5 linked regions of the Homo sapiens genome follow. The protein of the gene in region 3 purifies or fractionates together with the protein of the main gene of each other region. This does not show direct contact. Each region holds a gene or a part of one and is shown on either strand. Other genes may lie near its edges.

What was found.
Region 1: the proteins of CD7 (region 3) and RFT1 purify together in Homo sapiens (affinity purification with mass spectrometry; one large-scale study listed by BioGRID and IntAct). This does not show direct contact.
Region 2: the proteins of CD7 (region 3) and FAHD2A purify together in Homo sapiens (affinity purification with mass spectrometry; one large-scale study listed by BioGRID and IntAct). This does not show direct contact.
Region 4: the proteins of CD7 (region 3) and PI4K2A purify together in Homo sapiens (affinity purification with western blotting, with the first as the bait; one study listed by BioGRID). This does not show direct contact.
Region 5: the proteins of CD7 (region 3) and SLC30A9 purify together in Homo sapiens (affinity purification with mass spectrometry; one large-scale study listed by BioGRID and IntAct). This does not show direct contact.

What each region holds. Positions count from the first base shown.
Region 1 is NC_000003.12:53,119,652-53,125,303, forward strand, and holds part of RFT1 (man(5)GlcNAc(2)-PP-dolichol translocation protein RFT1), read right to left. Parts: intron 4,190-5,652; coding exon 4,073-4,189; intron 2,913-4,072; coding exon 2,723-2,912; intron 2,150-2,722; coding exon 2,048-2,149; intron 371-2,047; coding exon 233-370; intron 1-232.
Region 2 is NC_000002.12:95,407,056-95,412,707, reverse strand, and holds part of FAHD2A (oxaloacetate tautomerase FAHD2A, mitochondrial), read right to left. Parts: coding exon 5,551-5,652; intron 2,182-5,550; coding exon 2,122-2,181; intron 1,845-2,121; coding exon 1,682-1,844; intron 275-1,681; coding exon 166-274; exon of another isoform or gene 32-165; coding exon 1-31. UniProt on the Homo sapiens protein: Tautomerase that converts enol-oxaloacetate, a strong inhibitor of succinate dehydrogenase, to the physiological keto form of oxaloacetate. It is thereby required to maximize aerobic respiration efficiency by preventing succinate dehydrogenase inhibition.
Region 3 is NC_000017.11:82,313,687-82,320,016, forward strand, and holds CD7 (T-cell antigen CD7 precursor), read right to left. Parts: upstream 3,923-6,330; 5' UTR 3,810-3,922; coding exon 3,728-3,809; intron 3,296-3,727; coding exon 2,981-3,295; intron 2,724-2,980; coding exon 2,509-2,723; intron 1,746-2,508; coding exon 1,635-1,745; 3' UTR 1,187-1,634; downstream 1-1,186. UniProt on the Homo sapiens protein: Transmembrane glycoprotein expressed by T-cells and natural killer (NK) cells and their precursors. Plays a costimulatory role in T-cell activation upon binding to its ligand K12/SECTM1. In turn, mediates the production of cytokines such as IL-2.
Region 4 is NC_000010.11:97,642,813-97,648,464, reverse strand, and holds part of PI4K2A (phosphatidylinositol 4-kinase type 2-alpha), read right to left. Parts: intron 1-5,652. UniProt on the Homo sapiens protein: Membrane-bound phosphatidylinositol-4 kinase (PI4-kinase) that catalyzes the phosphorylation of phosphatidylinositol (PI) to phosphatidylinositol 4-phosphate (PI4P), a lipid that plays important roles in endocytosis, Golgi function, protein sorting and membrane trafficking and is required for prolonged survival of neurons.
Region 5 is NC_000004.12:42,086,646-42,092,013, reverse strand, and holds the end of SLC30A9 (proton-coupled zinc antiporter SLC30A9, mitochondrial), read right to left. Parts: 3' UTR 1,553-5,368; downstream 1-1,552. UniProt on the Homo sapiens protein: Mitochondrial proton-coupled zinc ion antiporter mediating the export of zinc from the mitochondria and involved in zinc homeostasis, zinc mobilization as well as mitochondrial morphology and health.

The sequences.
Region 1 (5,652 bases), on a different chromosome or scaffold from region 3:
CTAAACATCCTACAATGCACAGGACAGCCCCTACAACAAAGAATTGAGCAGCCCAAAATGTCCACAGTGCAAAGATTTAGAAACCCTGGCCTGGCATAGAGCAAGCACTCCATAAATATGAGCTATAAAATTCTATTTATGATTATAACAATAAACCAGTTGCAGTTTCTTTCTCTCAAGGATAAGCAGCACCTATGATTAAAATGATAAGAGATAAAAATGTATTACTTACTCCATTTCTTGTAATATTGGGTAACAGATCTGTTATTCTGGAGACAGGAAGAGTTTGAAGCTTGGTTGATTCTGGGGAACCCAGTAACTTTGTGAAATAAATAACATAGCAGAGCACCAGAACTGTGGTATAGAAAAGCTGAGAAAAAAAATAAACTGTTTTAATAAAGGCATAATTAAGATATGCCTATAAATTTGATCTCAAAGGCCAGTCAAGTAATAGAACTCTCTTGATTAACTGCACTTTCTATTCAGCAATGCCTTACCCTCTGGGAAATGGCACTAGTCACTTAGACCCAACTCCACTGCAGCATCTACCTGCAAAGTGTTCCCAACACTTCACTTAACTGGAAGAACATAATTCTTCTCGGCAGGCAGAATGTAATTTCCATAACAGATGTACACTAGCTCAATTACCACAGCCATGTCTGATACATTCTCAAAAGGTGTGTATTTGGCCAAAGGAACGGCTCTTCCACCTAGTCAGCACCCTGCAAAGATCTATGTATCCTAACTGTGTTAATATCCAAGGACTTGCCGTCATCAAGGACTGTGGGTTTTCTATAAACCCCGGAAACCTGTGCCATTAATGATTACAAAGCACAATTGAGCTGCTGGCTCTCTCCTCTTCGCCAGGGCAAGAGCTACTACAGATAGGGGAAGAAAGGGTAGGGTGATAAGAGGGCCCACCCCTCCCTCCACCCATCCAGGACAAAAGAATGGCTTCTGGCCAGGAGCAGCCAGATGGGTTTTGTCTGCAGATTGAGGAGGAAAGTCCAAAAAAGCCCCTTTTCACAAGCTCCCTTCGACCCTCTTTCCCTCCTGAGAACAGCAGTGCACACTGGTTCAAGAAAGACTGGCACCTCTAGACTTGCTTTCAACCTGGCAATATCAAGGCTGCTCCTGTAGTAAAGGCACAGGGCAAGGAAAAAGAAGAGTCTCACTTTAGTAGGTGTGGGCCCCTCTGCTCTCCACTCCCAACCATGCCTGAGACAAAGCCCATCATCCACCAGCCTTCTTTCTTCATGCTCCAAGCCCTTAAAGCTCCAGCGGCACTGCTGTGAGCCACCCACCTGATGCCAGTGTCCTCTGTGAGAAGTACCCTTTACATAAATCATTACTAAGAATCTTAATTTATCTTCCTAAACATTAATGAAAACTACAACTGCTTTGCACTGTAAAATGTTCTGGTAACTATCTGATCTTAAATTTCATTTTTAAAAATAGCACTTGTACTCTAGTTGTATTTTTATTAGAACCAGAAATATGAACTAGAACTAGGAAACAATGAGATGGAAATGAAGCCTAAATTGCTAAAACTGAACACATACCTACTCTGACTTGATTCATGCCCTCTGAATTATGTGAGATTTCAAACTAAGTTTAAAACAGGCTTGGCAGAGTTTCCACCTATTCTGCAAAAAAAAGATGGAAATCCAGGGAAAATAATACATATACAATTTGATTCCCACCCCACCCCCCACTGATTTTTTTCTCCTTTACAAGACTATCAGATGACCAAAGATCAGTTTGAAACAGGCTTGCCCACTGAATGTCTAAAAGGGGTTTTTGATGTTTGACAATGAAGTCCAGTGTGTGGCCCTCACCAGGTCCCTAGAAACACCTACGGTCTCAGTGTATGGAACACAATGGACCTGGCAGCTAGAGAAGCAGTGCTAAGGCCACCCTTCTGGTGCTTCCACCTCCTGCACAGGCATGGGTACTGTGAATGCAGACCACACGGCGGTGGGAACAAGAAGAAAAACCAGTTGGAGAAACAAAGATCATATAAAAAGTTAAAAGCCATGATTCTTACCTGGGCCAAAGAGAAAATGTACAATCCCCAGTGAGGCAACCACAGCACGAGAAAAGCTGTCAGAACGCTCTTAAGAATTACCGACAGGCTCTCTGCAATCACCTGCAAACATGTGGTTAAGGTGCAGTTTACAAACATCATCAAAAAGTCAAGATGTAATGGAATGATAGACAGAAAATCTAGGGCAGTGGTCACCCTGGCTGTGGGGGCAGGGCACACAGCTGGACATAAGTATCAGTAACGTTTTACTTCTTGGGTAGGGTGGTGGGTTCATGGATCTTTCAGTATATTATGCTTTAAGATTTACATTAAATATATATTCTTTTGTAATCTATTATAAAAGATGAAGAGAGAAAAGTTAATGTTAGTATACAACTAAATATAACCACTAGAAAAATCTGAAAAACCTTTACGGTCCTTCTAAATTCTGACTTGAACTAATAAATTATTAGCAAATCTGTTTTTTATTTATGGTGAAACAGAGGTGAACTTTAGCCTAGCCCATCTGACAAATTTCAAGTGTAAGAACTTAACTGACCATGTTATCTTTTTCTAAATACATTTTTAGGTGCAAGTCTGGAAAAATCATTCATTCTCTCCTATAAAAGCATTTTTAAAAAACAACGCTTTTTCTTATTCTTCCCATTTCCCATTCACAGCAGAAGGTGCACTGACCTTGAGCTTCACAAACATATGTGCTTGTGCCAAGACCCAAAAGGGCTCTCCTAGAAGCTCCACCACTGCCGAGAGACCAAACAGCACCACTCCAGTTGCATAGTGAGGGACAACATTAGGATCAGGCACTTCAAGCAGCTGCAACCAGATCCAGCCCAGGAATAAGGACCAAAACACACCCAGGGGGACTCTAGAAGAGGAGAAAAAAATAATTCACTAAATTTTAAAATAAATATAAATATATATTAAAATAGTAACACTGAACAGAAAAAAATAGTTATAATACAAACAGCTACCATTTATTTATAAGATACTAACTACATGCCAGGCACTATGATTCACGCCGCTTATCTCACTGACACCTCACAATGATCCTCTGTCATTATCTCCATTAAAAAAATGAAACTGAGGCTGACAGGCACTGGGCAATTTGGCCAAGGTCATGAACAGCTAATCAAGGGCAGAAGCAAGACCCAATCCTGCAATAACTCCAAAGCCTAAACTTCTATCCACTGGGTTACACATACTGACCCCATAAGCAAAATTCCCAGAAAGAAAATGCCTGTTGTTAGAATGACTGACAGACTGTATACAGCTGTTCCTTGCATCCCAAATAACCAACAGAGCAGTGCTCAGTATCCTTTCGCATGTTTCACATGTGTACCATGGGGCACTTAAATATGACTGGGTGGTTAACAGTTGTTCCTCTAATAAAATGAACACCTACCAGCCCTCATGACAGTCATTTCTGTGAGGCAATAAGGAGTTATGCAAGGGCAGCACTGGGAAATAACCTCAAACCCCAGCCCTCCCTGTGGGGACCTAGCTGGAGAAAAGCCATTGCAATTTTAAGCTAATGTATTTGATCTTCAAGAATATCCTAAAAGACTCAGAACTGAAGTCACATAACAAAACTGAAGAAAAATGTAATAAAACCCATAAAAGGCTTTCAAGAAATACTAAATCTAAGTGGCTGTTAAAAGCTCAAAAGATATTATAGAGCAAAAAGATTAGGAATAAAAAAGATGGCACAGGCCAAGTGGAGCCCACAGTGGTGGTCAGAAACAGCAAGAAACCACCTCCAAAGAGGATGAAACCAGGGCTAGAAACCTGGCCCAGAAACCCCAACCCAGAACCTCTTCCTGGCTCCTGGATATCCAGAGAGAAAATGAGCCAAGAAGTTCCTTTGACACAAACACTGTCCCCGTCTTGTTGTATGCCTGCTCCCAGAAACCCATGACGAAACTGAATCTGGGGGCAATTCAGCTTTAGGCACGTGTTACTGTTTCATTTCCAATGCTCACTACACCTGCCTTCCTGAAACGTGTCTCCTGCCAAAGCACAACTCACGTTAGCCACAGCAGGTTGAGGGTCTGGCTCCAGTCTCGCTGGGTGCCCCCACTGAGACATGCTCTGCGGAAGGCCTCTCTGGCCAGGAAGAGGGTGGTTGAGTAAAGCAGCGTTAGTCTGTAAATGAAAGGGAGAAATCAATAAGGTCTCAAGTTTTTTCATAGAGAGAACTTCTGGGATTTTTCCAGCAACAGGGAGGAGATAAAGTCTTGGTCATAAACCACTGGTGGTGATGTGGAAGGCAGTGGGCTCTTACAGGACCCCCTACCGGTCTGATCCATGAGAACTAATGAGTTAGGAACCAAATGAAAGACACCTGAGGGTGTGTGCCTACAGTTACGTGAAGGATAGAAACTGCTGCAGTGGCCTCAAAAGGCTTCAGCCTTCATGGCTACAGGCAGAGGTGTGGCCATGACCATAAGGAGGAGAAGAAGATAAGATTATAACCCCACCCTTCTTGGTCACACTGACACGAGTGACCGATGGCCCCTGTGAGAAAAGCTGAGCCTCTACCGAGTGGAGGCTCTGGCCAAAAGAATCTCAAGACAGGCAACAAGGCTGGCAACCATTACAGAGGCTGCTGCAACCCAGATCAGCAAGGCGTGCCTGGGTACCTCCCAGGTGGGCAGCACCTGGGTGAGCCTTCCTGCATCTTAGCGAGGAGTAGCTGAGATCTCCCCTCCTCAATAGACAGCCGTCTGGGTGAAGCCAGAGTAGGGACAGCCCAGGGTTAAGGTCTCTGGGGTTGTCCAAGGATTATCCTGCTACCCAGTGCCTCTGTGGAACACTGCAAATAAGGAGATGGAACCAAACCTTAAGCAGGGGAGCAGGGCAGGCCAGACAAGGGCTGTCAAAGCAGGACCTGCCAATCTCAGGAAGGCTGCCTGGGGAGAAAAATCTGAGCCCCTAGGAGGATTTGCCCCTCTTCCTTCCTGCTTTTAAAACAGTATTTCTTAGGGCCAAGTGCCTATATTTCTCAGGCTCATGCCTACAATCCCAGCACTTTGGGAGACTAAGATGGGAGGATCACTTGAGCCCAGGAGTTCGAGACCAGCCTGGGCAACACAGTAAGACCTCATCTCTACAAAAAATAAAAAAATTATTCAGGTGTGGCGGTGCACACCTGTAGGCCCAGCTGCTCAGGAGGCTCATACGGGAGCATCGCTTGAGCCCAAGAGGTCAAGGCTGCAGTGAGCCATGATGGCGCCACTGAACACCAGCCTGGGTGATAGGGCAAAAGCCTGTCGTCTCAAAAAAAGAAAAAGAAGAAGAAGGTGAAGAAGAGGAAAAGAAAACATATTTCTCAAAGAATGGTCCCTGTTTCAAAATCACCTAAGGAGCTTATAAAAATTCAGATTCCTGGGCCCCTGTTCAGCACTATGTAGTGCAAAACTCCACAGATGATTCCTTTGCTCAAAGCTTGAGTCCTGCCACTAAGCTCTGAGACCAGAGCCAAGAGTATATGTTTGGTAAGTATTAGACATGAAATGCTGTCTGGAACATATTGTCTTATTTATCAGGACATGAAGACACACCTGAGAAGCTGAGCTATTCTGAGCACTCACATCATTTCATATACT
Region 2 (5,652 bases), on a different chromosome or scaffold from region 3:
GATGACATCCCCTGGGTAAAAGGTAACAAACCTGGATCAAAGCAGAAGGACCCGGTGAGACCAGGGGCTGGCTGAGGTGGCCACAGCCAAAGATGGAGGGCTCAGGTCAGCCTCCACATGTGTGGCAGGTGAAGCGGGGCTGGCAGGACAGCCCCTGTCACTCACTGGGAGACCCAGGCTATCAGGTCCTCTGTCTTGAATACCATCTGGTTGGTGTTGCCGCTCTGGACCACTTCCCCATTCACTCGGCAGCAGATCTTTAAGTTGTGTGGATCTGAAATGCAAAGATGGTACCTTGGAGTTATCCCTTTTCCCCCTCAAACCCCCCAATATTTTACAAACACAACTGTAGGGGTGCTTCGTGACTTGGCAGGTGAAAGGGCTTCAAAGTGCCCACATTGACTCAGTGCTCTATGTTAGAACTTTCTGTATAGACATTGGCCTTCTCAGGCCTCCCCGCATCCCCACCAAGAGCACCAAGCAGTAGTAACAGGGATGGGTTGAGAGGATGTTTCAGACTCTGAAGGGGAAGAGAAAAATGGCTAGGGTTTTTGCCTTGAAAAAAATAAGGGCATCTGTCTACAGCATAGGATGACACCTGTAGATTGACTCAGCAGGGCCAAGCGTGGTGGCTCATGTCTGTAATCATAGCACTTTGGGAGGCCAAGGCAGGCGAGAACTGATTAAGCTCAGGAGTTCAAAATCAGCCTGGGTAACTTAGTGAGTGCTTGTCTCTACAAAAAATAATAAAAACATTAGTCAGGCGTGGTGGTGCGTGCCTGTAGTCCCAGCTACTCAGGAGGCTGAGGCGGGAGAACTGCTTGAACTCAGGAGGTTGAGGCTTCAGTGAGCTGGGATTGGGCCACTGCACTCCAGCCTGGGTGACACAGTAAGACCATGGCAAAAAAAAGACTCAGCATCTATAAAGCAGTGAGGCAATGGTTCTAGCCGGGACAGAGAAGCCTCGTGTACTGGATGCTGGCAGGGGATGGATTACTGTAAGAACATCCTGGCTAACCAGCACTTTTTACTGTTGGTGGTGGTCCTAGTGTTCTACCCCCCTTAAGTAGAGCAGCTGAAACACAATTTAACTTTGCTGAGGACTCTGCATGGGGTGCTGAGGCACTGGGGTCTTTGGTATCCTGGCATGGCTGGCCCATGTGGACACCCCCCACCTCCACCACAGTTGTGGGTGGCTGTGTAAGAGGCTGCGCTCTGCCCTCTGGGGCACTGCCCCCATCCTGGCGCTGTATCCTGACTGTGTGTGGTCAGTGCTGTTCTATTTCCACAGTGGCTGGGTGAGTCACACTGGCTTTCATCTCCTGTAGTGTGGAAAATGCCTTGGCCTTGGGATAACTATGCTCCATGATGCTCAACTTAGATTGTTTCAGAGGTGGCAGCCGCAGGAAGCCCGATCCACCCATCAGCTCAGTGTTCTTTGTAATTTACTTCACGCATGCAGTTTCACATCCTCTGCAGTTGTGTTCCCTCTAGGGGGCTTGGGAAGGAAGCCCATGGGAGAACTCGTGGCTGAGGATAAGAGACTTGCCCTGTATGGAGTCAGCAGTGAAAGGGCGGCCAGGGAGGGCAGGTGCCACATGTACCTGAACCCATGCTCCTCCCTGAAGCGCTGTTCATCTGTGCAATGGTAGGTATAAGGGGGCAGGGACCAGGGACCTACCTGCTACACTGTCCTTGGTCACCAAGGCAGGGCCCAGAGGGCAGAAGGTGTCGAAGGTTTTTCCCAGCAGCCATTGTTTCCCATTACGTCTCATTTGCCAGTCACGAGCACTCACGTCATGAGCCACAGTGAAGCCGGCCACGTGGGCCATAGCATCTGTGGCCTATGGGGGCAGGGGATTTGGCCATACAGGAGGTTAGATCATGGGTGACACCAACACCTATGGCAAGGGATCTCTAAGCTGTTATCCCATGTTAGTAGCCAGAGCCAGCCAAAGGTGGGTGAAGGGAAAGGCAGTGTCAGGGAGCAAGGAGGCTGACTGCTTCCTAGTGTCAGGGACAGCTGGCACCGTGTGTTGGTGAGTGGGGTCAGAACTAGGAGAGGCAGGAGCTGGGGCCTCTGCTGCACTCTGGACTGGGAGCCCACCCTTTCCACCTCACCTTGATGTGCTTGCCTTTCTTTCCAATGACCACGGCCAGCTCCACTTCCCAATCTACCTCCTGTAGGGTGGGAGAGGAACAGTGAGCTGCAGTGGCTTCAGGGCCCACTGTCCATGCTGAGAGGCTGCACACCATGCTGAAGGGCCTCAACCTTTGTCAGTATGGCTTCGCTGCCATCCCATGTTTGCCATCACCACGAACCAGAGCCCAGTGAATGACAAGGGAGGTGTGACTTGTAGACCCATACATTTTGGGCAGTGGCAGACAGCATCATGGGATGCAGGCACAGGTCCCCACACCACTGACTGCAGAAGAGCAACACGTGTCCAGGGCACTGAGTTTAAAAGTCACTCTGGATACTTTTAACAAAGGATAAATACGAAGTAATATCCCCTAGCAATATGTAACCCTACTGTGTGTCAGGCACTGTTCTAAGTGTTTTAATCTATTAACTCCCACAAAGGACTTGAGTAAGCAATTCACAAAAAGGTAACGGACATGGCCACAAAACATGAAGAAATGCTCAGCCTCTCCCATAATCCATAAAATACACTATAAAATAGATATAATTTGGCCTTTAAAATTGGTGGCTCTTTCTAATAATAACCAGAGTTGGTGTAAGTACACCCGACATCCAGATGTTGGTCTCTAATACCACTCCCCACTAAGGAGCACTGGGTTCCTTGGGGAAACGGCCAATTCCAGTTCCAAGACAGACAGTACATGATAAGCCTAGAACATCTTGGCCAGAAAGCTAGGATATACTAAAAGTGACGGGAATGGAGCCAACTTGAAGGCCCCTCACTGGCCAAACTGAGGTCACCTAAAGAATGTAAATGATGAATTACAAACAATTGAGTAAAAACAGAATTCACAGTGATATTGAAGACAGGAATAAAAAGGAGGGAGGCAGCTTTTCTTCATAGAAGAATGCCAGCCAATAAAAACAGAAGGCATGATTGAGAAGTCATTGATCTTGTCTGGGAGTGGTGGGTCACGTCTGTAATCCCAGCACTGTGGGAGGCCAAGTCAGGTGGATCACCTCAGGTGAGGAGTTCAAGACCAGCCTAGCCAACATGATGAAACCCCGTCTCTACTAAACATACAAAAATTAGCCAGGTGTGGTGGTACACGCCTATAATCCCAGCTACTCAGGAGGCTGAGGCAGGAGAATCACTTGAACCCAGGAGGCAGAGGTGTGCTGAAATTATGCCACTGCACTCCATCTGCACAATAGAGTGAGACTCTGTCTCAAAAAAAAAAAAGGTCATTGTTCTCTAACCCCCAGTGCAATAATAGATTCAGTCAGGATGACCACAGGATCCCTGGATGAGATGCTATGGGGCAATAAGATAGTTATGTGATCTCAAACTACCACCCATGGATTGCTTATTACAAAAATAGAAATGCATCTTCACAATGGAGGGACCTAGTGAATGTCAGCTAAACCAAGTGGTCAAATTCTGGGACCACTGACATGAGCCTCCCAGTGGGATACGATGGAAAATGTATAACATCTGCTTTGTAGATCTCTTGATAAAAATGCTTACCCTGACACTAATCATGAAGAAACAACCAGACAAACCCAGAATGTGAAACATGCTATGAGACAACTGGATTCTTCAAGGAAAGGGCAGGGGGTATTGTTTGAGAGCAGGAGTTGGCAAACTATGGCCAGCTCAACATCTGCTATAATCAACTTTGATTGGAAACCCATCATTCATTTCTGTATCGTGGTTTTCACACTATAACAGCAGAGTTGAATTGTTGCAAAACAGAACATATGACACGCAAAGCCTAATATTTACTAATTGGCCCTTGATATGGTTTAGCTCTGTGTCCCCACCCAAATCTCAACTTGTAGCTCCCATAATTCTAACGTGCTATGGGACGGACCCGGTGGGAGATGACTGAATCATGGGGGCAGGTCTTTCCCGTGCTGTTCTCATGATAGTGAATGGGTCTCATGAGATCTGATAGTTTTAAAAATGGGAGTTTCTCTGCACAAGCTCTTTTCTGCCTGCTGCTATCCACCTAAGATGTGACTTGCTCCTCCTTGCCTTCTGCCATGATTGTGAGGCTTCCCTAGCCACGTGGAACTGTAAGTCCAATTAAACCTCTTTTTTTTGTAAATTGCTCAGTCTCGGATATGTCTTTATCAGCAGCATGAAAACAGACTAATACAGCCCTTTAAGAAAAAGTCTATGGAACCCTGTCCTAGATTGAAACCACTAAAGAGATATAACTGAATACAGTGTGTGGCCTTGGTTGATCATGGAGCAACAAACGAAGTAACCAAATTAGAAGTTATCTTTGGGGAAGTCAGCAGTACTTCCGATTGGGAATTGGGGCAATTGGATTTCATATTAAATATTATTCAAGTTAATTTTTTTGGTTGTGATAATGGTGGGATGGTCATGCAAGCCATTGTCCTTATTCTTAGAAGATGCCTATTTACGTTTTTATGACTAAATTGTCTTAATATTTCCAATGTGTTTTAAAAGGTCCCCTCCACCCCATACCCTGCAAAAAAAAAAAAAAAAAAAAAAAATGTGTGTTTGCCATGTGGAGGGCAGGGAGAAGACAAGGGAGAAAAAGGATATATGGCCAAATGTTTACAATGAAACCAGGTGGAAAAGTTATCTGAGTGTTCACTGTATTATTTTCCCAGCTTTTCTATAATTTTCAAGACATTTCTAAAATAAAAATCTGAGAGAAAAAGTAACCAGTGTTAGAAAGGGTATATACACTACTGGTGGATGTGTAAGTTGCTTTTACAATTTTTTAAAAGGCCAATTGGCAGAATTTTTCAAAAATTTTGAAATACTGCCTATACGCTGACATATTTAAATTCCAAAGGGTTTATTCAAAGGAAATAATAATGTATTAATGGACATGCAAAGCCTTTTCCACATAAGGATGTTTACTGCAACATTTATTTATAGAAGCCAAAAACTAGAAACAGTATCCAGCAGTAAGGTACTCAGGAATAAACTAATCTACATAACAAACTCCGTGGTGTCAGGGCGAATACTTAATGGCATGAAAAAATGCTCCTGATGGAGTCTTAAGTAAAAGGTAAGTATATGTACAGTATAAACATATACAGGAGCGGAGAAACACTGGGAAGGTAGACAGAAAAACATTAATATTCCGAGCCATGGGCAGTGGGATTATGGGTGACATAATTTTTTAATGTTTATCTCTATTTTATTATCTACAGTGAAGGTGCATTGCTTTTGTAACCAGGAAAACACGTACATTAACTTTTTTTTTCCAAGGCCAGTGTTACTACTGTGTGTACAATCCTGTAGAGTTTCTGCTGAATGCGCTATTGAGCGAGAGGTGGCTCCAGTAGGCTCAATACTGAGCTCAGAATGCCCTTGTGATGGGCCCAGTGACTAGGGAGGGCAGTGGGGAGACACTGACCTGGCTCTGTGGTGGGAGGACCACCTCATCATAGGGCCCCACGATGGAGCTGGCAAACTTGCTGAAGATGATGGGCTCCTTGGGCACGGGCACGTTCTGTTC
Region 3 (6,330 bases):
TGCGGTCAGGGGCTCCGGAGCCTCTGGGTCTGCAGCTGTCTTCTCAGCCAGGCACTCTCTCGTACTGACGGGGGTCCTCCGTGTGCAGGGCCGAGGAAACCACCGTGGCCAAAGTGGACCACCAGCTGAGCGTGGCTGGGATGCTAGCAGCCCCCAACCCTGCCGGCCTGGGATGACGGCGGCCTGGGATGACGGCAGCCTGGGGAGAGAGGGCACTCTGATTTCTCCTCCTGACGGTGGGCCTGGATGGGCTGGAGAGGACTTGGGCCTCGGCCCAGAAGCTACTCCAGGTGTCACAGAGACCACATTCAAGGTTGGAGGCCGCCCCAGGCTGCCCATGTGAAGCTAGGGGTGCTGACCAGAGGCCGGCTCCTGGACGTGAGTCCTGGACACCAGGACAGTGGCCTAGAGCCTGCACAGAGGCAGCTGGATGAGGCTGTGGGGCGCGTCCTGCACAAGGAGGACCCCGGGTTAACGCGCCAGTGCGGCAGGAGGAAGGGCTTGAGGTGTGGGTGTGGGGTGAGTGAGGGGCAGGTGTGAGGGGTGGGTGAGGAGCCTGCACATAAGGCCCCGCCTTTGCTCCCCACCTGTGTCGCAGGAGGCAATGAAGTGCAGTGTGTGGCGCCCTAGCGGCTCCCCAGGCAGTGGCTGAGGGCCAGTGCCTCTGTTTCCCCCGGGAATGGGCGAATGGTGGCTCCTGTCCCCACGTGCAGCATGGGAGCTGCGCTGGCTGGGGAAGGTCTGGAGAGTCCAGCTGGGTCTCCCCCGGGGCCTCTGAGAACGAGGAGGAGGCACCTTGTAAGACGGGGCAGGGAGGGGAAGCGCTCAGGCTGCTGAGTGAGGCAGCCTTGTGCTCAGCTTGCTGGTCCCGGTGTGCCCTGGGGTCGGCCTCGGAGGCCTCGGGAGGCGGTGTCGCTGGAGTGGGGGTCGGGGGCATGGGGGGCCATCCTGAGGCTCCTGAAGGGCCCCTGGGTCTGGCCTCCACCTGGACAGGTGGATGTGCTTCTTCTCAAGGGTGGGAGGCCCCCAGGGCTCCTTTCAGGGCTGGGGTGAGGAAGTGCTCCCTTCCCCACCTTCAAGGCCACAGCTGCAGAGCCCCAGGCGGAGGCTTGGGGAGGGTCCGAAGTGTCAGCCATCTCCCTCCCTGGCTCCTGCTGGCTGAGGAATAAATGCAGAAGTCAGAAAAGGAAGCACAGAAGCCTTTATTTCTGGTACGGCTGGGTGGGGGACTGGTCTCCTCCCGTCCTCTGCCGGGCTGCCTGGGGGTTGGGGGCCTGCTGGTGGGTGGGCCGGCACTGACAGGAGAGGGCCGCGTGCCCAGGCCCATCCCACAGAAAAGCCCTCCTTGGCCATGGTCGGGAGATGCAGCCAAAGGACAGTCAGGCTTCCTCCCGGTGGCGGCGTGGGCTGGGCAGGGAAGGCTTCCCGGAGGAGGCATCATTGTCCACTGAGAAGCACCGTGGGGCCTGGCCACTGCCTGTGTGTCTGCTTGGAGCTGGGCACGGCTGGGCCCTTCAAACTCTGCTGCAGCCGTGGGAGGACAGCAGGGTGAGGGGTGTGGCAGGGTGGGGGGCATGGTGGGGCAGGGAAGGTGCTGGGGGGACCACAGGCGGGACGTGCAGGGGCCCACTGGGTCACTGGTACTGGTTGGGGGAGGACAGCGTGTTGCAGCGGCTGTGCGACATGTCCTCGTACACCACACATGCCGCCGAATTCTTATCCCGCCACGAGCACAGTTTCTTTATCTGAAAGACAGAACCGCCGTCTCCAACCAGTGGCCAGCGTGGTGTCCTGGACCCCACCCCACTCCGGTCAGCTTTCTAATTTTAACACGAGACCCCCACGGGGCTCCTCTGGGCTGGCCCCCAGGTCTCCTGAGCCCCAGGGCTTCCCAGCAGAGCCTTCCCCAGGCAGGGCTGGGTCGGACCCTGGGGTGCCTCTGAAGAAGGAGAGTGGAAGTGGCTTGGACCCCCCCACCAAGCCCAAGCCAAGCGGGACCCCCACTCCAGCCCCAGACAAACAGCAGGGACCGAGGGGAGTGGCCACGCCTAGACTCTGTGTCTGTCTGAGGCCCCCTCCCCTTCCCACGGCCACACAGCACGCCGGCACACTCCAACATGCACGCACAGTCCTCAGAGATCCCCACACACAGGCTCACACCTGCACACGTGCACACGCGGGCCCAGCGCCTGGGCGCTCCCTCCTCTGCCCGCACACTCCAACCTGCACGCACAGACCTCAGAGATCCCCCCTCAGACACTCACACCTGCACACGCGCACACGCGCACACGCGGGCCCAGCGCCTGGGCTGCTCCCTCCCCCTCAGGTCGCTTTGGTGCTGGTCCCCCTCCCTCCCCGCCGAGGCCACTTCCACCCTGAGAGTTCCAGAGCCTGCAGAGGAGGCGGCGGGTACCAGGGTTTTCCTCTGGGGCTTTGGCGCCCCCCACGCTGCTCTCAGGAGAGGGAACAATCTTTGGGGTGCAGGTGGCAGCTGGGGCTCACACTGACCTGTGTCCTCGCCAGCACACACGCCACCCCCAGGCCCAGCCCGAGGAGGAAGGAGATCACCGCCAGGGCCGCAGGGAGGGCAGAGGCTGCTGGCGGGTCAGGGAGGGCAGAGGCTGTCTGCGGGTCAGGGAGGGCGGAGCCTGTCGGTGGGGCAGGGAGGGCAGAGGCCCTTGGTGGGGCGTCCGAGCATCTGTGCCATCCTTGGGACTGTTCCTCTGAGAAGGAAAAAAGAAGGAAGGGATTCTCCCGGTGGAGAACCTGTTAGAGCCCCCGGGGTTTGGGATTCGGGGCAGGGAAAGGCTGTGGAGGGGAGGAGGGGCAGCTATCTAGGAGGCTGCTGGGGGCAGTGGGCTGGGAGCTGGAACAGTTCAGGCACATGTAGGAGGGAGGGTCCCACGACAAGGGCTGGGGGAGCAGAGCCTGGCCAGCAGCTGGGGTTGGGAGGGGGGTCTGGGATGGGCACATTCCCTACCTGTCACCAGGACCAGGGTGCCGGAGCCGTAGACATTGACCTCCGTGATGGCCTGGCAGGTGTAGGTGCCAGTGTCCGACAGCTGCAGGCGGTGCATGGTGATAGTCAGGTTGTCCTGGGACCCTGAGAAGTCGATGCGGCCCCGGAACCGTCTGTCCGTAGTGGGCACCACCCCGTCCTCGTAGTAAATGATGTCTTGGGGCTGTGGCCCGAGCTGCCTCAGGTAGATCCCACGCAGGCCCCCGCTGGTGGAGCAGGTGATGTTGACGGAGGCTCCCACGGGGACAGTCGTGCAGTGGGGAGACTGCTGCACCTCTGGGGAGGACCTGGGCTGTCACCATCAGTCTGGCCAGAAGGACAGAGAATGTCCTCCCTGCAGGGGACAGTGGTGGGGATGGTGGGGCCCTGAGACAGCCCAGGGCTGACATGTCGCCAAAGACACGGTGCCTTACGGGGCATGGAGCAGATCTGGGCACCGGCTGTGGTGTTGGGGGAGGTGCTGTCCTCGTGTTCCGAGACTGTGGGCTTCTTCCTCCCAAAGCAGCGGCCCTGCCTGGACAGCCCCGGCCACTCCCCACCGGGGTCCACCCTTTTTCCTTCTCTTAAATGAGTCCTCAGACACTGGAGGCCGCTCAGCACCCCACCCGCTTCCTGGGGGCTGTGCTGTGGCTCAGACTGGGGGCTCTGAGCTCATGGGGCAGGGAGAGCTCTGGAGCTGTGGCCATGGAGAGCCTGGGAAGCTCTTACCTTGGGCAGCCAGGGCCCCAGGCAGGCCGCGAGCCAGCGCCAGAAGCAGGGGCAGCAGCAGGAGCCTCGGAGGCCCGGCCATGTTCCCCACACCCAGCTCTCCCAGCCGGGCGAGTGCAGCTGAGCCTCTCTGGGTCTACAGGACCCCACAGAGAGCAGCACACAGGAGACCGCAGGCGCTCAGAGCTCAGAGAGGGCTTCCTGGAGGCGGTGCCTCAGACCAGGGTGGTGCTGTGGGCCCGGTGGGAGGGGCGGTCTCACCTACCCCTCCCCAGCACTGCCTCCCTGAGAGCTGCCCTGAGAGCAGGGCGTCCCTGTATCCCCCACTGCCCCTGCATCTCCACAGGGAGGAGGTCAAGGCCTGGGGCGGGGCAGACCAGAGGACAGAGAAGGGACTCCCTGGCTGGGGACGGGTGGCAGGGTCTGGAAGTGAGCGGCAGAGCTGGCCCCCAGCCTGCCTGGTCCTCTGGGGTACTTTCTGCTGGGACCCAATTTATGCCCAGAAATCTGGAGCCACCCATGACCCATGAGTCACCCACACAGTGCAGAGGAGCACAGGGCAGGCCAGAATTGGCACCCCCTGGTTTGGCCGTGGGGAAGGAGCCTGGGCCTGCACCCGCACCCAACGCTGCAGCCGACCAGCTGACCGTGGCTCTGCGTTCCATGTCCTGGAGGCGGGAGGTCTGAGGTATGGTCCAGGCCTGAGGTTTCCCGACCTCCCTGGGAGGAGTGCGTCAGGCCGCAGTGCCCAGCTTCAGGGGCTGAGGGAGACCTGTGCCTGGGCTCTGACCCCAGGGTGACTGAGTCCTCTGGGAGGGGGCACTTCTCTGTCCTGAGGGCCTCCCGCCACAATGACGAAGCGTTGACGTTGGTGCCCAAAGCCAGTAGGTGCAGCACATGAGCAGGAGTGTGTGGACACGTGTGTGTGCAGAGACGGGTGCGTATGGACATGTGTGTGCAGAGACGGGTGCGTGTGGACACGTGTGTGTGCAGAGACGGGTGCGTGTGGACACGTGTGTGTGCAGAGACGGATGCGTGTGGACACGTGCGTGTGCAGAGGCGGGTGCGTGTGGACGTGTGTGTGCAGAGACGTGTGCGTGTGGACGTGCGTGTACAGAGACGGCTGTGTGTGGACACTTGTGTGTGCAGAGACGGGTGCGTGTGACTCCATGCGTGTGTGCAGAGACGGGTGCGTGTGGACACGTGTGTGCAGAGACGGGTGTGTGTGGACACGCATGTGCAGAGATGGGTGCGTGTGGACACGTGCGTGTGCAGAGACGTGTGCGTGTGGATGTGCGTGTGCAGAGACGGGTGTGTGTGGACACGTGTGTGCAGAGACGGGTGCACTTGACTCCATGCGTGTGTGCAGAGACGGGTGCGTGTGGACACGCGTGTGTGCAGAGACGGGTGTGTGTGGACACGCATGTGCAGAGACGGGTGCGTGTGAACACGTGTGTGTGCAGATGGGTGCGCATGACTCCACGCGTGTGTGCAGAGACGGATGTGTGTGGACACGCGTGTGTGCAGAGACGGGTGTGTGTGGACACGCATGTGCAGAGACGGGTGTGTGTGGACACTTTGTGCAGAGACGGGTGCGCGTGACTCCATGCGTGTGTGCAGAGACGGGTGCGTGTGGACACGCGGGTGTGCAGAGACGGGTGCGTGTGGACACGTGCGTGTGTAGAGACGTGTGCGTGTGGACGTGCGTGTGCAGAGACGGGTGTGTGGACACTTGTGTGTGCAGAGACGGGTGCGCGTGACTCCATGCATGTGTGCAGAGACGGGTGCATGTGGACACGCGTGTGTGCAGAGATGGATGTGTGTGGACACGCATGTGCAGAGACGGGTGCGTGTGGACACGTGTGTGTGCAGAGATGGGTGCGCATGACTCCACGCGTGTGTGCAGAGACGGGTGCGCGTGATTCCACGCATGTGTGTGCAGAGACGGGTGCGTGTGGACACGCGTGTGTGCAGAGACGGGTGCGCATGGCTCCACGCATGTGCAGAGACGGGTGTGCGTGACTCCACACGTGTTTGCAGAGACGGGTGCATGTGAACACGTGTGTGTGCAGAGACGGGTGTGCGTGACTCGCGTGTGTGCAGAGACGGGTGCGCGTGACTCCACACATGTATGCAGAGACGGGTGTGCATGACCACGCGTGTGTACAGAGATAGGAGCGTGTGGACATGTGTGTGTGCAGAGAGGGGTGCGTGTGGACACGTGTGTGTGCAGAGACGGGAGCGCGTGGACATGCGTGTGCAGAGACGGGAATGTGTGGACACTCGTGTGCAGACAGGTGTGTGTGGACACGCGTGTGTGAGGAGACGGGTGCGCGTGACTCCACGCATGTGTGCAGAGGGGTGCGTGTGGACACACGTGTGTGCAGAGACGGGTGCGCGTCACTCCATGCGTGTGTGCAGAGACGGGTGCGCGACTCCATGCGTGTGTGCAGAAACGGGTGCATGTGGACACGTGTGTGTGCAGAGAAGGGTGCACGTGACTCACGCGTGTGTGCAGAGATGTGTGCCCGTGACTCACACACGGACCTGCAGCCCTGAGCTCCTTCCCCAGAAGTCCCAGCCACAGCAGCCGGTGCGGAGAC
Region 4 (5,652 bases), on a different chromosome or scaffold from region 3:
GAGGCAGGATTGCCTGAGGCCTGGAGTTTGAGACCAGTTTGGGCAATACCACAAGACTCTGTCACTAATTTTTAAAAATTAGCCGGGAATCATGCCTGTAATCCCAGCACTTTGGGAGGCCAAGGAGGGTGGATCACCTGAGGTCAGGAGTTCGAGACCAGCCTGACCAACATGGAGAAACCCCATCTCTACTAAAAATACAAAATTAGCCAGGCATGGTGGCACATGCCTGTAGTCCCAGCTACTCGGGAGGCGAGGCAGGAGAATCGCTTGAACCTGGGAGGTGGAGGTCGCAGTGAGCCGAGATCATGCCATTGCACTCCAGCCTGGGCAATGAGCGAAATAGCATCTCAAAAAAAAAAAAAAAAAAAATTAGCTAAGTGTGGTGGTATGCACCTGTAGTCCCAGCTACTCGGCGGGGAGAATCCCTTGTGCCTAGGAGATCAAGGCTGCAGTGAGCTAGAAGCATGCCACTGCACTGTAGCCTGGGTGACAGAGCAAGACCCCATCTCTAAAAAAGAAAAATTAAACAACAACAACAAAAAAAAAGCAAGCAGAACTTGAAGGCCAAGATTGCAGTCAAGTGTCATTTAAAGACTGACCTCTCAAACATCTTGATTTCCTTCTACCATAAGGAGAATAAGAAGCATTTCAATGACTCCAAAAGCATGAGTAATTATGGTTATGCAATAGTACAGGGGTTTTATTAAAGAATACTGCCTGGACTAGATCAATGAGGGAATGTTAGAGTATGAAGAATGGAGGAACAAAAGGGCATTCAGACAGAAGGGGAGACAAGTGCCTTTCAGGACTAAGTGTAAGCCTCAGTTCAATTCAATTATGTTAGCATTTGCTCAGGACCTAGCCTGTGGAGAACGATGTGCAAGCATTCTGCAGGCATTTGGTGGCTTTCCTAGACAGAGAGGTAAAATACCCTCTGGCCTAATTTCCAATGTTCACTTCATAAAATCAACTATGCTACTGAATAATCAAGAATACTCTTCTCATTCATGGAGAACAAACTCTAAAACCACTCAAATTGGAAAGACACCCACCAGTATTTAGCTGGAAAAGAAAATGACTACTGCCTAATTTTTCCTCACCATCCACTCTCTTCTTTAATATTTTGTGTTTTTTTTCTCTTAATAGATTTTCAATTCCTTTATTATATCTAGGAGAGAGCTTCAGTTTGATGCCAATATTATAAAAACAACTTTTCTTAACACCCATTTACTAATCTCCCCTTTTAACAAAGGAGGGGTGAGGTACAGATAGCTTAAGCAGTAGCAGTCCATGAAGTTGGGAATAAAAACCAAATCACACAAGAAAGCAAGAGGCCATGCACCAGCTGGTGTCAGAACCCACAACCAATTACTGGAACCTGAGCCCAGCGCAGTGGCTCACACTTATAATCCCAGCACTTGGGAGGCCAAGGCAGGTGGATCATTTGAGGTCAGGAGTTCAAGACCAGCCTGGCCAACATGGTGAAACCCCATCTCTACAAAAAAAAAAAATAGAAAAAATTAGCCGGGCATGGTGGCATGCACCTGTAGTACCAGCTACTCAGGAGGCTGAGGCGGGAGAATCGCTTGAACCCAGGAGGTGGAAGTTGCAGTGAGCCAAGATCACACCACTGCACTCCAGCCTGGGCAACAGAGCTAGACCCCCCTCTCAAAACAAACAACAACAAAAAATTACTGGAACCTGGAACCCAGCGGGGTTCCTATATCTAATCAGCAATGACAAGGAGGAGGGTGTCATGCTATGCTAAAAGAGGTCCTTTCTCCAAGAACCTAAAATGTAAGACAGTTCAAGCATATCATTCACATCGCACAGTGAAATATACAGAAATTACCTTTTATAAAAGTCTTCTTTTAAAGTTTCATAAACATTAAGTGGATAGTTCTCAAACGTTTTGGTCTCAAAAAGTTTAAACTCTTAAAAATTAGGCTGGGTGTGGTGGCTCATGCCTGTAATCCCAGTACTTTGGGAGGCCAAAGCGGGTGGATCACCTGAGATCAGGAGTTTGAGACCACCCTGGCCAACATGCTGAAATCCTGTCTCTACTAAAAATACGAAAATTAGCCGGGCATGGTGGTGGGCGCACCTGTAATCCCAGCTACTTGGGAGGCTGAAGCAGGAGAATTGCTTGAACCCAGGAGGCAGAGGTTGCAGTGAGTCGAGATCATGCCTGATCTAGCCTGAGCGACAGAGTGAGGCTCCATCTCAAAAAAAAAAAAAAAAATTATTAAGGACTCCAAAAAGCATTTGTTAATGTGGGTAAAGGCTATATCTCATATCTTAGTATTCAATCTGTTTCAATATCACACATCATGTAGTCTCTGGAAATCTCCACTCTCCACTCCTAAGTAAATGAGAATGAAAAAGGCAAATAAAGTCTTAGAATTATGATGAAAATAATTTTGACCTGTGGACCCCAAAAAGGAACTCCCAGAGGTCAAGATCCCTGGGCCACACTCTAAGAACTGCTGTATTCTATGGTATAGGTTGGAGGAAAATAGTAGTCCTTGATTTAGCTATTTAGGTAGAGAAGCCTTATTTACAAGTTCATTCTTACAAAAGGAAGGGAAGGGCTTGTTGAAATATATAAAACCATCCAGGCACAGTGGCTCACACCTGTAATCCCAACACTGGGAGGCCAAGGCTGCAATGAGCCAAGGTTGTGCCACTGCACTCCAGCCTGGGCGACAGGGTGAGAAACTGTCTCAAAAATATATATATAATAAAATATAATAAAATTATTTTACTAAAACGTTAAGAGGCAGTCAAGTTTGTCATACATGTAGGTCTCGAGATTTTAAGCATCATCTACCAACTTTTTTTTTTTTTTTTTTTTGAGATAGAGTCTTGCTGTCTCGCCCAGGCTGGAGAGCAGTGGCACGATCTTGGCTCACTGCAAGCTCCGCCTCCCGGGTTCACGCCATTCTCCTACCTCAGCCTCCCGAGTAGCTGGGACTACAGGTGCCCGCCACCACGCCCGGCTAATTTTTTGTATTTCTAGTAGAGATGGGGTTTCACCATGTTAACCAGGATGGTCTCTATCTCCTGACCTTGTGATCCGCCCGCTTCAGCCTCCCAAAGTGCTGGGATTACAGGCGTGAACCACTGCGCCCCATCTACCAACTCTTATAGCCTTATTCGATACCATGTACCCCAAGAACCCTAATTAAGCAGTTAGTAGGAATGTTTTTAAAAATCTGATTGAGCTGCCCCAACTAAGTGCCAGGAACTACGTCAGGGCTTTCATGTGTGATATGTCATTTAATCCTCTTAACCTAGTGAGTCACATGCTGTCCTATGATTCTTGGCAATGTGAAAATCTAGTATTACTCCACGCAAAAGAGAAAAAGCTCAAAAAACCCTTTTGCAGTTGAGTGAGCATGAGACCTGAAGCACAAGGAGGTAAGTGAGGGGGGTATGTGTATACTCTCCCCATGACTTCTAGCATTTTCCATCTGTTCTTGGACCCCACTGAGACAGAAACCATCCAAAATTGAGAAATGGGACCAGGGCTGTTATCTTCAAGAATCTTTCAGACTGTCTAAGATCCAAAAGTGGCTGTCGCAGAAAGTGCTGGTTCTCCCAATCTCTGTTCCCCCTTGTTCCCTAGACACAAGACCCATGATTTTTACCTGGGCGAAAAAAGAAAAAAGACTATAGTTCCCAGCCACTACTACAGCTAAGTTTTAGACAATGGAATGTAAGTAGAAGAGTCTCCTACAACTTCTACGAAGTGCCTTAAAGGATGGGGGCATATTCACCCTCTCCCTTTCCTTCTTCCAAATGGCTGAAAAGCAGACAAGATGTTTGCAGCTTGAGCGGCCATCTTGGACCATGTAGTAGAAGCCATATCCTAAAGATGGCTGATCAGCTGGCAGGAAGAACCCTATGTCTCCAATAAAGTGAAATGTCATGCCAGCCCTGAGCATGCCTGAGCAGCTAGCCTATAGACTTCTTTTACATGAGGTGTAAATGAACCTTTTTTCAAGTCATCATTATTTTAAAATATCTGTCACATATAGTCAAATTCAATACTAACCAATATAGTAGCTGAGAAGAGAATTTAGAAATTCTTTTCTTTTGTTTTGTTTTTGAGACGGAGTCTCACTCTGTCGCCCAGGCTGGAGTGCAGTGGTACGATCTCGGCTCACTGCAACCTCCACCTCCCAGGCTCAAGCAATTCTCCTGCTTCAGCCTCCCGAGTAGCTGGGATTACAAGTGCCTGCCACAGTGCTCGGCTAATTTTTGTATTTTTAGTAGAGATGGGGTTTCACCATGTTGACCAGGCTGGTCTCGAACTCCTGACCTCCAGTGATGCGCCTGCCTCGGCCTCCCAAAGTGCTGAGAGTACAGGCGTGAGCCACCGCACCTGTCCAGAATATGGAAATTCTGATGACTGACTCTGAGGGAGCAAAGGATAGTGGTGAGAACATGAACTCCACAGCCAACCCGCCTTGGCCCAATCCTGCCTCTACCACTTACTAGGTGTGAGACCTTGGAAAAATTTGTTATACCATGGGCTTGTGTTGTCACCTGCGGGGATAATAACAGTACCTACCTCCAAGGGTGGTTATAAAGATTAAGTGAGTTATTATTTGTAAAGCACTTAAAGGAATATAGTAAATGCTATGTAAGTATTTGTTTAATAAAGTAAATACATTTGGAGGAGAGCCAAAGATGACAATTCCAACTACAGTAAGTCTGTGGGCCAGTCTAACCCACCGCAAGCATTTAGAAAGTGCCCTTTGTTCTAAATCACATTTTCTTCACTGGAAGCAGTATGAGTACGTCAAAAAGTTTTGTCAGGGCATCTGTGTTTGGACTTCCCCTATGAGAAAGGATAGTGGCCAGGAAATTTTAGAGACTGGAATCCCTAAATCACCAAGTAACATACCTATGGTCTGTCCTTCTCTGTGGCCTATGTACTGAGATGGTAGTACTTTACCTGCCAGGTAGAATTAAGAGATCGTATTACTTCCATCTGTCAAAGCACCAGCTCACTTCTCAGCTGACCTAACCCACTTCCAATGCAGCTCTAACAGTGTCATGAAAGAAAAACAAAAATATTCCTCCTTCTCCTGTACCTATCAAAGATAATCTTAGCCCCTTCTTACATTTGCCAACAAACTAAAAATACCCTCTGCCCACAAAAAAAGGACAGGCATGGTGGGTCACACCTGTAATCCCAGCACTTTGGGAGGCTGAGGCAAGAGGATGACTGCTTGAAGCCAGGAGTCTGAGACCAACCAGGGCAACATGGCGAGACTCTTGTCTCCATGAAAAATAATTTTTAGCCGGGTGTGGTGGTGCGTGCCTGTAGTCCCAGCTACTCGGAAGCTGAGTGGGAGGACCTTGAGCCCTGGATGTCAAGGCTGCAGTGAGCAGTGAGACTGCACCACTGCACTCCAGCCTGGGTGTCAGAGTGAGACCTTCTCTGAAAGAAAGAAAGACGAGAAAGAGAGAATGAATGAAAGAAAGAAAGAAAAAGAAAGAAAGAGAAAGAAAGAAAGGAAAGAAAGGAAGGAAGGAAGGAAGGAAGGAAGGAAGGAAGGAAGGAAGAAAGAAAGAAAGAAAGAAAAAGAAAGAAAGAAAGGAAGGAAGGAAGGAAGGAAGGAAGGAAGGAAGGAAGGA
Region 5 (5,368 bases), on a different chromosome or scaffold from region 3:
CTGAGCCGAGATCGCGCCACTGCACCCCAGCCTGGGCGACACAGCGAGACTCCGTCTCAAAAACAACAACAAAAAAGTGTACATGTAAAACAGTACCTGGCAAACAGACCTCAAAATATTCTGTTAATAGCTGTTATAATACTAGCAAGTATATATTTTAGTCTATTTAAAAACTTTTTTTTTTTTTTTTTTTTTTTTTGAGACAGAGTCTTGCTGTCTCCCAGGCTGGAGTTCAGTGGCACAATCTCGGCTCACTGCAAGCTCTGCCTCCCGGGTTCTTGCTATTCTCCTGCCTCAGCCTCCCCAGTAGCTGGGACTACAGGTGCCTGCCACCACGCCCTGCTAATTTTTTGTATTTTTAGTGGAGACGGGGTTTCACCGTGTTAGCCAGGATGGTCTCGATCTCCTGACCTCGTGATCCGCCCACCTCGGCCTCCCAAAGTGCTGGGAATACAGGCGTGAGCCACCGCGCCCGGCCGTTTAAAAACCTTTTAAAAGGGTTGTATTTTGGGCCCTAATGACACATACAATTCTTTATTTTCCTGTGCAAATCATAAACTGTAGTGGTTCTACTTTCAATAGGTTTTGAATTTTGGGAGGGAATTTTACCCTCTCAAAATACCAAATTACTTTGGTTTAGTTTCTCATGAAAAAGAAAATACAGTTGGAATTCCCACAGGATTAGTATAGAGTTCAATTTAGATCACAGTGCAGGCTGGCCTTAGGTTGAGGGTTTTGATGTTTCCATGTTTTGTATTTTTTTCTCTAAACATACTCTTGTAGACACATCTGAAACAAAACAGCCTAATTAAAATGTTAAATAATCTAGTTATGTCAAAATGTACTGAAAATATATATCACTAAGGAATATAACTTTCCAAATTTTGTTTTACCAAACATATTAATGTTAATATGTTAATAAACAGTATATTAATAGTTCTTTTTAAACTGAAACCGATTATAAAATGATTAAGTTATTATAGTTTGGTTTTATAAAACCAAAAAATGAATAGTTCTCTTTAAAGTGAAACCGATTATAAAATGATTAAGAGTTATTATAGTTAGGTTTTGTACGACCAAAAAGAAATCCTAAAAACTAACAGGCGGCCGGGCACGGTGGCTCACGCCTGTAATCCCAACACTTTGGGAGGCAGAGGCGGGTGGATCACGAGGTCAGGAGATCGAGACCATCCTGGCTAACATGGTGAAACCCCGTCTCTACTAAAAATACAAAAAATTAGCTGGGCGTGGTGGCGGGAGCCTGTAGTCCCAGCTACTCGGGAGGCTGAGGCAGGAGAATGGCGTGAACCTGGGAGGCGGAGCTTGCAGTGAGCGGATCTCCAGCCTGGGCGACAGATCGAGACTCCGTCTCAAAAAAAAAAAAAAAAAAAAACTAACAGGCACACTGAATGAGTAACAAATTCTGTTCAAAAACATAGGCATAAAAAATATATCAGATTATATAGTTTAGTTCTTAGCACATGAGGTAAAGAAGAATTTATGTTCAACAAACATTTATTTCTCAAGGGAAAAAAAATCCCAAACTAATAAATGAGTTGCCTTTATTTACATATGACATTTATTAAGGGAAAAAGTATCCTGAGGGACCAGGACCATCTTAATGTGCCAGGGAAATCAGACAGATGAAATACAATATAACGAATAAAAATTTTCTTTTTGCATAAAGCCAAGTCTAAGGATGCAAGTAAACTTACATGCAAATATAAAGGCTGTCAGACTAATCTATATAAATGGCTTCCAAAGTTCCATTTCAGAGAAAGAAATGAAGGATTTAGGGGAGACAATCTTTGAATCAACATTTTACCTTCGATTCTTTGCTTCACTGACTTCTGACAGTTTGGCAAATTGGGGTTCATCACATTTAAAAGAAATGCTGCCAAAGCTTGACAAATGCAGTCTAAGAAGATAATACAAATTCTAAATGCCTATGCAGTTTTCTGTAGTTCCCAGCATTCTTCCTCAAAAAGTTACGAGACTTAAAACTTAGGCACTCTTTAGATGGTTATCATTTTAGCAAAAATCATTACCTAAATTATGAGATAAGGTAACACTGAAAGCCATATACCAAAAACTCAAGCCTTATGACATTTTGTTATTCACTTTGCACTATGTGTGTGTGTGTAGGAGGATGTATGCAGGGATTACCTTTGCTTTTGAAAAAATTTGAAAATTTTTCCGTCTGATCTTATCTCACAGGTTCTTTAGTGTATGTTCAGGAACTTACCTCTTTGGAGTTGGATACTATAGGCCCCCAGGATACTCCACTTAAAAACAGATCACCGGAGCAGTGGCTCACACCTGTAATCCCAGCACTTTGGGAAGCCGAGGAGGGCGGATCACCTGAGGTCGGCAGTTCAAGACCAGCCTGACCAACATGGAGAAACCTTGTCTAAACCAGAAATACAAAATTAGCCGGGTGTGGTGGCGCATGCCTGTAATCCCAGCTACTCAGGAGGCAGGAGAATCACTTGAATCGGGAGGTGAAGGTTGCGGTGAGCTGCAATTGTGCCAGTGCACTCCAGCCTGGGCAACAAGAACGAAACTCTGTCTCAAAAAAAAACAAAAAAAACAAAAACACTCCACCCCTCATCCTCCCACTGCCATGATGAAAACTGTGCCACCTTATATAGTTTGGGGACTGCTACTTACAGTGAATTAGAGATCCATTCTCAGCCAAAGCTAAAAGTAGGTACAGATGCTTTTTACTTATTATTGGGTTATGTGCCAATAAACCCATCATAAAAATTCTTAAGTGCAACCATTATAAGTCAGGGACCACTGTATACCTCACCTTTGATAAATCCTAGATTTTAGTTTTGGGCAAGAAGGAATCAATCATGGACCCTTGACTGCCCCTCCTCTGTCCAGTATTATTTTTGTAATTATTCTCCTGCAGAGAATATTTTCCTTAAAAATGATTTATATGCTTTAATACTCAAATGCTATATGCCAAAGTAGATACAAAGTAAGAAACATTAATTTGGTAAAATAACAAGAAACCTGAAAAACTAAATATAGCCTTATTTTTGGAGAAAGAGACCCAAATTCTCTTTTTGAGACAGGATCTCACTCTGTCATTCAGGCTGGAGTGGCATGATCATAGCTCATTGCAGCCTCGACCTCTGGGGCTCAAGTGATCCTCCCACCTCGGCCTCCCAAGTAGCTGTGACTACAGATGCTGATATGCTTTGGATCTTTGTCCCCACCAAATCTCATGTCGAATTGTAATCCCATGTTGGAGGTAGGGCCTGGTGGGAGATGACTGGATCACGGGGGTGGAGTTCTCATGAATACTTTAGCACCTTCCCCTCTTGGTACTGTATAGTGAGTTCTCATGAGATCTGGTTGTTTACAAGAGTGTGGCACCTACCCCCAATCCCCGCCTCTTGCTCTTCCTCTGGCTATGACTGCTTCCCCTTCGTATTCTGCCATGAATGAAGTTTCCCGAGGCCTCCCCAGAAGCAGAAGCTGCTATGTTTCCTGTTCAGTCTGCAGAACCATGAGCCAATTAAAGCTCTTTTTTTGATTACTCAGTCTCAGGTATTTCTTTATAGCAGTGTGAGAATGGACTAACACAGGTGAGCACCACCACACCCGGCTAACTTTTTTTAGTAGAGATGAGGTCTCGCTGTGTTGCCCAGGCTGGTCTTGACCTCCTGAGCTCAAGCAATCCTCCTGCCTCGGCCTCCCAAAGTGCTGGGATTACAGGCATAAGCCACCATATCCAGCCCAAATTCTCTGATTTGAAAATTCAGTGACTCTAGAAAAATTTCCTGATTCCACATAAATACTCAAATTCCTTGATATGTTGTACTCCTTTATGTCTTATTTTACATAAACAAACTTTATGTAAGTTTATCAGTGCAAAACAGAATTAGAAAAGATGGCAACATAAACCTTCAATTATTATTTAAGAATGGTATGACCTCAACCAAAATCAGATTTAAAAAGAAATATCAGAATTTTTTTTTTTTTTATTAGGGAATCCTAAAAAAAAAAAATTACCATTTGGAATACCTGCTGCACATTAACTTTGAGGGTCGTCTTGGGAAAAAAAATGAGTAATTATTCTTGTCTGGCTTTGTGAAATTTTTCAGAGTAATATCACTAGGAGGAAACTGGATATAATTTGGTACTTTCTCATATGGCAATGACATGAAGTAATAAATGGCAAGTGGGAAAGGGGAAGGAAGAAGAAAAAAGTATAGAATAAATCATAACAGGTAAAAAAAAAGTTTTTTTTGTAAAGAAGGGATAAGGAATTTGAAACTGTAAGAATAGAGTATCAAATTATATATATATATAACAATTTTCTATCTTAAAAATAAAACTGGAATGTTATTTCACTTAAAATGTACAGCATGCAAAATACTCTGTAATAGTAAAAAAAAAAAAAAGAAAAATACACCAACGTAAAGTCTCACAATTTTCCAGTAAATGAGATTTCTGGGTCAAAAATCACCATTACAAACCCTTTAACCAAGGATTTATTTTTTGTTTCCAGCATTACAATTTGCAATAATTCATAGATTTCCATTCCAGTAAGTTTTAAGACACAGATCTCACACAGGCAGTTGGGTCCACATGTTAAGAACTCATTAATTCAGCAAAGAGATCACCCAGCCGCCATTCTCATATGAACAATGCTCACTGCTACCTGAACATTTTAAAGTATGTTATGAGTTGTTTTGATGATGACAGCTGCAGCTTTTCACCACATTTTCAATTACTGAATTGCATGTTTTTTTTCCACCTTGATAACTTAGGGTCAGTAGAAAGCTATTTACTTACATGTTATAGTCAATATAACTATACTAAATGCCCATTTGTAACTGAAGAAACTCACAGACACAGTATGAACTATATTATACAAAATCATGACCATGAGTTTCAGTGAGAGATTCTGTCTCTCTCTTAAAGCAAGAAATATCCCACAGCTCAGATTTACATAAGTAGTGCCGCCTTTTAAATAAAAGTCAAATGCTGTCCTGCCTGTAAAATTATAAATATTTCTAACCCACTTTACAGAATTTTAAAATGCTTATAAATGCATTATCTTCCAGTAAATAAACATTATGGTACTGAACCTCATTTAAAAAAAAGTCATCACACTGGCCCATGGAAATATCTAGGACTATATCTCCTAACATTAGAAAAATTAAACCAAATAAGGGGAAAAAAGCAAAGAAGAAAAAAGAAATTTTACAAAATGGCAACTACTATGACCTAAAAGAGTGTACTGAGATGTCTTCATTCAATTCAGTAACTAAACATTTCTGGAATGAACATTTGTAGATAACTAGGTAAGGAGAGTGATTCTCTTAGCACTCAGGTCAAAATCACAAGG